2 linked regions of the Homo sapiens genome follow. The protein of the gene in region 2 purifies or fractionates together with the protein of the main gene of each other region. This does not show direct contact. Each region holds a gene or a part of one and is shown on either strand. Other genes may lie near its edges. The genes, in order: HIBCH and PRR19.

Region 1 (3,811 bases), on a different chromosome or scaffold from region 2:
ACGAAAGAGGGAGAAAGGGTAGGGGATTTGAGGGCTTTTTGTAAGGTAATAAATGCATGTTTCAAAGGCCACAGCAGCAGGATGGCAGCAGGATGAGTTTACAAGCTCAATGCTGCACTTATCAGATGCAGTCCATGATTGTAGGGGCAGGATTACCTTATATATAAATTAGGAAACAGTGGCCAAGTTATGTGAATTTTTAAAACAATTATCAGTTTCAAAGACTGATCTTCCTTTTCATATCCCAGATGGTAACATATTCTTTAAAAACATACACAACTTTGCAATCTTAATAAAAGTTTAATTTTCACTACTAAAACAACTATAGGTTGAGTATTCTTTATCTGGAATGCTTGGGATCAGAAGTGTTTCAGGTTTGATTTTTTTTTTTTTTTTCAGATTTTGGAATATTTGCATTATACTTATGGTCCAATGAACATTTGAGTGTCATGTTGGTGCTCAAATAGTTTCAGATTTTGGTACATTTTGGATTTTAGGATTTGGGATGCATAATCTGTATCTTCTTTAATTAACAGCATATGCTCACAAATCCCATTTCCCCAAAATGGTAAGTTCCCATTTGCCACTTACCAGCTCTAACGCCTTCATGAAAGTCATGACCTCTCTGAAAGAAAATTGAGATTAAATGGGGATAATTTCTGGGTGTCCTTATTCTGGGTTATTTTCTCTCTCCTCTATTCACTTCAGCCTTCCACTCCCATGGCCACAACCTGAACCATGACATTCAGAGACTGAACCACCTCTGATAGCCCACTCTCTGATCACCACCTCCTAAATCTTATTTGCTCAAGTATCTCCACTGCTACAAATCATTGATCTTACTGAGGTCCACAGATCCTATGACTTTCTCCCCATCTGTGCTGGCTTCACTTTGCTCTTCATCCAGCCCAATTTCACCAGTCCTTTAATATGGTCACTTTCCTGTCAAAATGTCATCATCTCCCTCAAACCTTTTTTCCTTTTTTACAATCCTAGCAAAATCCTGGCACCAACTAAACCCTATCACGTACCCCTGCCTGCACTTCAGCAGCTAAGTCTTGCTGCAGAAAATCATACAACTGTGACTGGTTTCATTTAAAATTCATGATCAAAAATCTCAAACAGGCACAGAAAACTGCCAAACAATCCAAGATCTCTTCCCAACTCCCCAAGATAATGATTTTAAGTGTTTTCTGCCTTCTCAACCTCTACCCGTAGAGCACACTCTTATTATAGTCTCAGCCAGTTACTTAACCTCTGACTTCTTTAAAAATACGAGAAGCTCTTAGATATGAAGTCTTGTCTTCTCACCACTAAAACACCTGCAGGCAACTGTGGCCATCTGCACCTGCCTTCTCTTTCAATGCCGTGGAGGAAAGGACCATCCCTTTTTCAAAGACCAGTCCTCCCTTGCATTCCAATTCACATCCCCTCTTGCCTTCTCAAGGATGGACTTTGCTTGATGTGGTCATTCACTTTTATTTTCCTAGAATCATCGATGTAGGCAATATAGCTGAGTTCAAATGTCTAGGTTCACATCCTGATAGCTACATATTAACTATGTGACCTCGGACTAGTAATTTCTCCAACCCTAGTTTCTTTACATGAAAAGGTAATTTATATATCCATCCTAGGATTATTTTAATCCACATCCAAGCACAGTGTCCGACACTAAGTGTTCAGTAAATATTAACTACCATTAGTATCATCAACATAATCTTGTTTCTCTATTGGATCATTCCCAATCATTTTTAAACATGTTCTAGTACCTTCCATCTTACAAAATAAAAAAGGAACTTCATTTGATTCCACAGTCCCAGCTTCTATCCTATTTCACTTTCAAGAGTATTCATCTACACATATTCTCTCCACTTCTTCACATCCCATTTTTCCTCTCCAACTTACTACACTCTAACTTCTGCCCCCACTCCTCTAAAATGGCTTGCCAAAACCACCCATGACATCGGCATCGCCAAGGTCAAATGACACTTCTAACCTCGTCTACACTTTGACAGCGTTCAACACTGTCCATTACACCCTCCTCCCCGAAACATTCCTCACTTTCTTTTGTGACACTACACTCTCCTGGTCCTCCTACCTCTCCATCCTTTTTTTCCTTCCTACTGCTCTTTCTCTACCACACCTCAAAATGTTAGAGTTCCTTAGGGCTCAGGTCTGGACTCTCATTTTCTTTATAATATGATCTTACCTATTCAGTGCTCAACATAGCAGCCTGAGTGATCAATTCTTTAAAGTATAAGATCATGGCATTCCTCTCCTCATAATCACCTAGTGGCTTCCCATTTTACTCAGCCAAAGTCCTTAGAGAGACCTTCAAGGCTCTGTATGCTCTGCACAGCCTTTCTCTACACTGTTTCCTCTGACCTCATCTCTCACTCACCACAACCTCTGCCCCCCATCCGCTTCCACACGGCCTCTTTGTGGTCCCTAGCACAGGCAGTCATGCTCCAGCCTCACAGCTTTGTTCTTGCAGTTCCCACTGCCTGGGATGCTCTTCCTCTAGATAATGGCATGGGCTCACTTCCTTACTTCTTTCAGGAATTCACTCAAAGAACATCTCAGTGAGGCCTTCTCTGGTCATCCCATCTACAATTCATCCCCCTGTTACTCTATATCACATATCCTGCTTCCTTTTTCTTGTTAATATTTATAATCATATAATATATATTTTATGTATTAATCTTGTTTACAGTCTATTTCCCCATTATAAAGTAAGTTCCATGAGGGCAGGTGTTATCCTACTCCCTACTCCCCAAGATAATGATTTAAACTGTTTTCTGCCTTTTCAACCTCAACCCCTGGAGCACACCTATGTACCTGGAACCTATGTACCTGGGTACCTCTAACAGTGTCTACGACATAGTAAGCACTCTTGTTTAGTAAATAACGAATCCCCAAGGTTTTCTTAATTGCTGTTGGTGTCTTTCAGATTTAAATCTCCAACTCATTCCTCTAATCTCTAACTCCTAAATGCATTCCTTCCCTCACATCCAGCAAGTCCTATCTATTCTATCTCCTACATGTGTCTCAAATCCATTTACTTCTCTCAATTGCCACCATGCTTGTCTCAAAACTACTATTTCACACCTGGATCACTGCAGGAAATCTATATCTGGTCTCTAAACCGTTCTTGAACCTCTCCAACCCTATCTCCACACAGCAGCAACAATTTCCTTCTTAAAGCAAATTGAACCGAATGAAATGAAAAATCAAATCACCTCCTGCTTAAGCCCAAGAGTCTTCTCAACATACTCCTTTCTCATCCTTTAGGTCACAAATGAAGTGACATCACAAAGATGTCTTCCCTGATCTACTTAAGGAGGTTTCCCATTGCCCCCCAACTCCCTCCTGTCCCTGCATAATCTCTTCTATCACCAACCCTGTATGTTTTCCTTTAGAGTACTTATCACAATTTATAATTATTTTACTTATTTTGTTTACTTGTTCTTTGTAGTCTCAGTAGACTAAACCCATGAAAATAAAGGACTGTGTCTTCTTATTCAACAATATAAGGCTAACACTGAGCACAGTGCCTGGGACATAGCTAACATATTTGCTGAGAGAATGAAGGCAAGAATCAATCAATCTAGGCAGTGCACTAAAAGTGTAATGAAAAACATGGAATGTGTGAGGTATACAGGAGAGTGGTCAAGAGTGCAGGCACTGGAGTAAGACTGCCTGGTTTCATATGCCATATCTCTGTCACTTAATAGCTGCACAACCTTAGGCAAGTTACACCACTATATAACAATTTCTTCATCTGTAAAATGGAGTCAATAACAGTACCTAT
Region 2 (4,573 bases):
TTTCTTTTCTTTTCTTTTCTTTCCTTTTCTTTTTGAGATGGAATTTAAATCTGTCACTGAGGCTGGAGTGCAGTGGCACAGTCTGAACTCACTGCAACCTCCACCTCCCGGGTTCAAGCGATTCTCCTGCCTCAGCCTCCCAGGTAGCTGGGACTACAGGCGCAGACCACCTTGCCCAGCTAATCTTTGTATTTTTTAATAGAGATGGGGTTTTGCTATGTTGGTCAGACTGGTCTTGAACTCCTGACGCCAAGTGATCTGCCCACCTCAGCCTCCCAAAGTGCTGGGATTATAGGAGTGAGCCACCGTGCCTAGCTGATTATGACTTCTTTTTTGGAGACAGGGACTCACTCTGTCACCCAACCTGGAGTGCAGTGACACCATCATGGGCCACTGCCACCTCATCTCCCAGGCTCAAGCTATCCTCCTGCCTCAGCCTCCCAACTAACTGGGACTACAGGCACTTGCCCTTTTTTTTTTTTTTTTTTTTTTTGAGACGGCGTCTCGCTCTGTCTCCCAGGCTGAAGTGCACTGGTGCCATCTCGGCTCACTGCAAGCTCTGCCTCCCAGGTTCACGCTATTCTCCTGCCTCAGCCTCCCAAGTAGCTGGGACAACAGGCGCCTGCCACCACGCCCCGCTAATTTTTTGTATTTTTAGTAGAGACGGGGTTTCACCGTGTTAGCCAGGATGGTCTCGATCCTGACCTCGTGATCTGCCCACCTCGGCCTCCCAAAGTGCTGGGATTACAGGCGTGAGCCACCGCGCCCAGCCTTTTTTTTTTTTTTTTTTTAGACAGGGTCTCACTGTGTTACCCAGGCTGGTCTCAAACTTCTGGGTTCAAGCGATCCTCGCACCTCAGCCTCCCCAGTAGCTGGGACTACAGGCATGCATCACTGCACCTGGCTCCCTCAGACTTTATTTGTTTGTTTATTTTTGTAATTAAGACAGAGTCTCGCTGTGTCACCCAAGCTGGGCCACTGTTGCCCAGGCTGGGCTGCAGTGGCGCGATCTCAGCTCACTGCAACCTCTGCCTCCCAGACTCAAGCAATTGTCCTGCCTCAGCCTTCCCAAGTAGCTGGGACTACGGGCGTGTGCTGCCATGCCTAGCTAATTTTTTTTTTTTTTTTGTATATTTAGTAGACACGTGGTTTCGCCATGTTGGCCAGGCTGGTTGACCTCAAGTGATCCGACCATGTCAGCCTCCCAAAGTGCTGGGATTACAGGCATGAGCCTCCATGCTGGCCTCCCTCAGACTTTAAAATCAAGCTATTCCACGATATTCCCCAAACCTAATAAGAAAGTGATTACCTGTGTCTTTTCTTTCTGCTTGCCCATTCTTCATTATCTTTCAGACCCAGCTGAGATACTACTCCTAGGAAACCCATAGTCCTCAGAGTCCTTCTCCTCTTCCTCCCCAGAGGTCCCTGTCTCTCCCTCAAACACAACTTTGACACCCCTACACCTCTGTGTCTGGATCTGTCTCCCTAAACACATTGGGACAAGGTCAGGAGCTGACCCACTCATTTACTACTCATTCAGCAAGCACTTGTGGAATAACCACTGTGTGCCCGGCCCAGTTCCAGGAAAGTGGATTGAAAACATAAACACAATGAATAACACTCATCTCTGTCTCAGTATCAATCCACCTCGAAGGAATGAATACATGGGAAGGTCCCACCTGGAGTGAGGCTACAAGAACATGACCAGGACGTTTAGCAGGGAGTGAGCCCCCCACCTGGTCCCAGAGAAGAGGGAGATCTGAGAAGACACTGAGGTCTGAGATTAATTTGGGGCAGCGTTGGGGGAGAGGCGCGACCCTAGGTGGCCTTGGCTATGGATGTAGGTTTCAGAGCTCAGACATACCCAGTTGGCCTGTGGGTTTAGAGAGAGTGTAGAGGCTGCAGATCTGCAAGATGATCTGCCGGAGGGACGCCAGACTGGACCTGAGCCCTGGAGGCGTCTCTAATTTCCTTTCTCTTTCTGCACCTTCTTCTACCCTCCAAGCAGGTCCTATGGTGTCTTGAATGCAAAGATATGTAGTTTATATGTTATGCCACGCGCGCGCACACACACACGGTGTTTTGAGTAGGGGTCCTGTGATGTCTTGAATGCAAAGATATGTACTTTAGATTTCAACACACACACACACACACACACACACACACACACACACACACCCACGGTGTTTTGAGTAGGGGAAGCCCACGAGTAGATAGGCTCACTAAAGCCCTGGCGCGGCCTTAGAGTGGCTCCTTAGAAGGGAGCCTCGAATTTTCACATTTTGTCATCTTCCTTTTCTGTCCCCCACATCAGTAGAAAATAGGAGCGTCCCCCCCAGCCAGGTGCATTCGAGCCACCCCTTCAAGGGAATATAAGAATGGACTCGTCCACTCGCTCCCCTCCCCCCACCACGTGAATGGGTCACCCCCCCCCCCGCAACAGTAGGTGGTCCCTTCCGCACATTTCACTCTGTACAGCAAATGGTTTCTTCCCATTTGCTAGACAGAGGGCTAGATTTTCCCCGCCCACTCTCGACTCTTCAGGTAGTTCGCCCCTCCCCGTGACCGGTGGGTGGTTTCTCCCTCCTCCCCGCCTCGGGAGCTGGATGGTCTCGCCTCTCCCTCCCCCCACCCCGTGCCGGGTGCGCGGCCTGGGAGTCAGCGGCCCGAGCGGGAAGCGCCGGGCGAGCCCACTGTGCGGCCGTCGTGGGGGAAGCGAAGGTTCCTGATTCCACCTACCTCCTAAGTGAAGGCTTCCGTCCCTGGAGAGGAGGCGGCGCCCTGTATCGGCCTTCGTCCTCCGCGGGTGTGCTAGCGTTGGGACGGTCCTTTGTTGCCGCGAGGGGTAGGAGTGGGCGTGGCGGAGCCAGCTCCGTTCGGAACACTCCCGGGCCGACCCGACTCGCTCATCCTGCAGGAGCTGCGGCGCCAAGATGAGTGGAGAGGAGAACCCAGCCAGCAAGCCCACGCCGGTGCAGGACGTACAGGGCGACGGGCGCTGGATGTCCCTGGTGAGCGTTCCCACCTGGGATATTGAGGAGTCCGGGGGCGCGGGGGGTGGCTCAGGAGAACGGCTGGTTCGTGCCACTCTCACTACCTGATTGGGAAACTGAGGGCAGTTGAGGAGGCGCTGCCTAAGGGAGCAGGGCGGGGCGGGCCCTGGAGCGTGCATGCCATTGACTCCCTCTCGCGCGCTCCCGCAGCACCATCGGTTCGTGGCTGACAGCAAAGATAAGGAACCCGAAGTCGTCTTCATCGGGGACTCCTTGGTCCAGCTCATGCACCAGTGCGAGGTGAGGGCAGTCCCTCTCCCCCTGCCCCATCCAGCCCTGTGTCCATGCTGACACATCTGGACCAGAACCCAGGCCAGGTGAGGTATTATGAGAGTACCCAGATTGGCCTCAGGCAGCCCGAGGCTCTGAGAATCTTGGTGTAAGGTGCAACATTCTATTGAGAAAGAAATGTATGCCTTGGTTTTATCAGATTGGATTTGTGTATAATGTACTAAGACCTAAAATGAGGCTTTCCTGCCATAGGCTTGCCTAAAGTGAGGCTCTTTCTTGTTTGCTTTAAGTAGTGCGCAGCCCTGTTGGGTTTACACAAAGCTATAGTCACTTTACAGGAAGCGAAGGGCAACTCTAATGGCACTCCACAAAGAGGACTCAATCATAATAATATCTTTCCACAAAGCATGTCCAACTGTAATGGGTTTCATCAAAATAAGTTTCAACTGTAATGCCATTGATTCAATGCATGGCTCAAGCAGACTGGATTTTCATGAAGTGAGTCTTGCTTCTATGGGGCTTGGTTTGTTTTGTTGGTTGGTTGGTTGGTTGGTTGGTTTTTGAGACAGGGTCTTGCTCTGTCACCCAGGCTGGCGTGCAGTGGTATGATCTCTGTTCACTGCAACCTCTGCCTCCTGGGCTCAAGTGATCCTCCCACCTTAGTCTCCGAGTAGCTGGGACTACAGGTGCACATCACCATGCACCTGGCTAATTTTTGTAATTTTTGTAGAGATGGGGTTTTGCCCTGTTGCGCAGGTTGGTCTTGAACTCCTGGGCTCAAGCAGTCCGCCCACCTCAGCATGAGCAACAGAGCCTGGGGCTTGGTTTAAAGTGAGAGACTCTAGGCAGGGTGTGGTGGCTTACGCCTGTAATCCCAGCACTTTGGGAGGCCAAGGCAGGCGGATGACCTGAGGCCAGGAGTTCGAGACCACCCTGGCCAACATGGCGAAATCCTGTCTCTACTAAAAATACAAAAATTAGCTGGGCATGGTGGCACATGCCTATAGTCCCAGCTACTTGGCAGGCTGAGGCAGGAGAATCGCCAGAACCTGGGAAGCAGAGATTGCAATGAGCCGAGATCGCACTACTGCACTCCAGCCTGGGCAACAAGAGCAAAACTCCGTCTCAAAAAATAAATAGGCTGGGCACCATGGGCTCACGCCTGTAATCCCACCACTTTGGGAGGCCGAGGCAGGTGGATCACCTGAGGTCAGGAGTTCGAGACCAGTCTGGCCCACATGGTGAAACCCCATCTCTACTAAAAATACAAAAAATTAGCTGGACGTGGT

What was found.
Region 1: the proteins of PRR19 (region 2) and HIBCH purify together in Homo sapiens (affinity purification with mass spectrometry; one large-scale study listed by BioGRID and IntAct). This does not show direct contact.

The regions. Positions count from the first base shown.
Region 1 is NC_000002.12:190,208,289-190,212,099, forward strand, and holds part of HIBCH (3-hydroxyisobutyryl-CoA hydrolase, mitochondrial isoform 1 precursor), read right to left. Parts: intron 626-3,811; coding exon 592-625; intron 1-591. UniProt on the Homo sapiens protein: Hydrolyzes 3-hydroxyisobutyryl-CoA (HIBYL-CoA), a saline catabolite. Has high activity toward isobutyryl-CoA. Could be an isobutyryl-CoA dehydrogenase that functions in valine catabolism. Also hydrolyzes 3-hydroxypropanoyl-CoA.
Region 2 is NC_000019.10:42,300,670-42,305,242, reverse strand, and holds the start of PRR19 (proline-rich protein 19), read right to left. Parts: upstream 3,112-4,573; 5' UTR 3,012-3,111; coding exon of another isoform or gene 2,934-3,011; 5' UTR 2,740-2,933; exon of another isoform or gene 2,619-2,739; intron 2,545-2,618; exon of another isoform or gene 2,443-2,544; intron 2,120-2,442; exon of another isoform or gene 1,865-2,119; intron 1-1,864. Other genes in the region: PAFAH1B3 (platelet-activating factor acetylhydrolase IB subunit alpha1), read left to right, coding at 2,934-3,011, 3,204-3,293. UniProt on the Homo sapiens protein: Promotes meiotic crossing over formation through its interaction with CNTD1 by participating in the crossover differentiation step of crossover-specific recombination intermediates.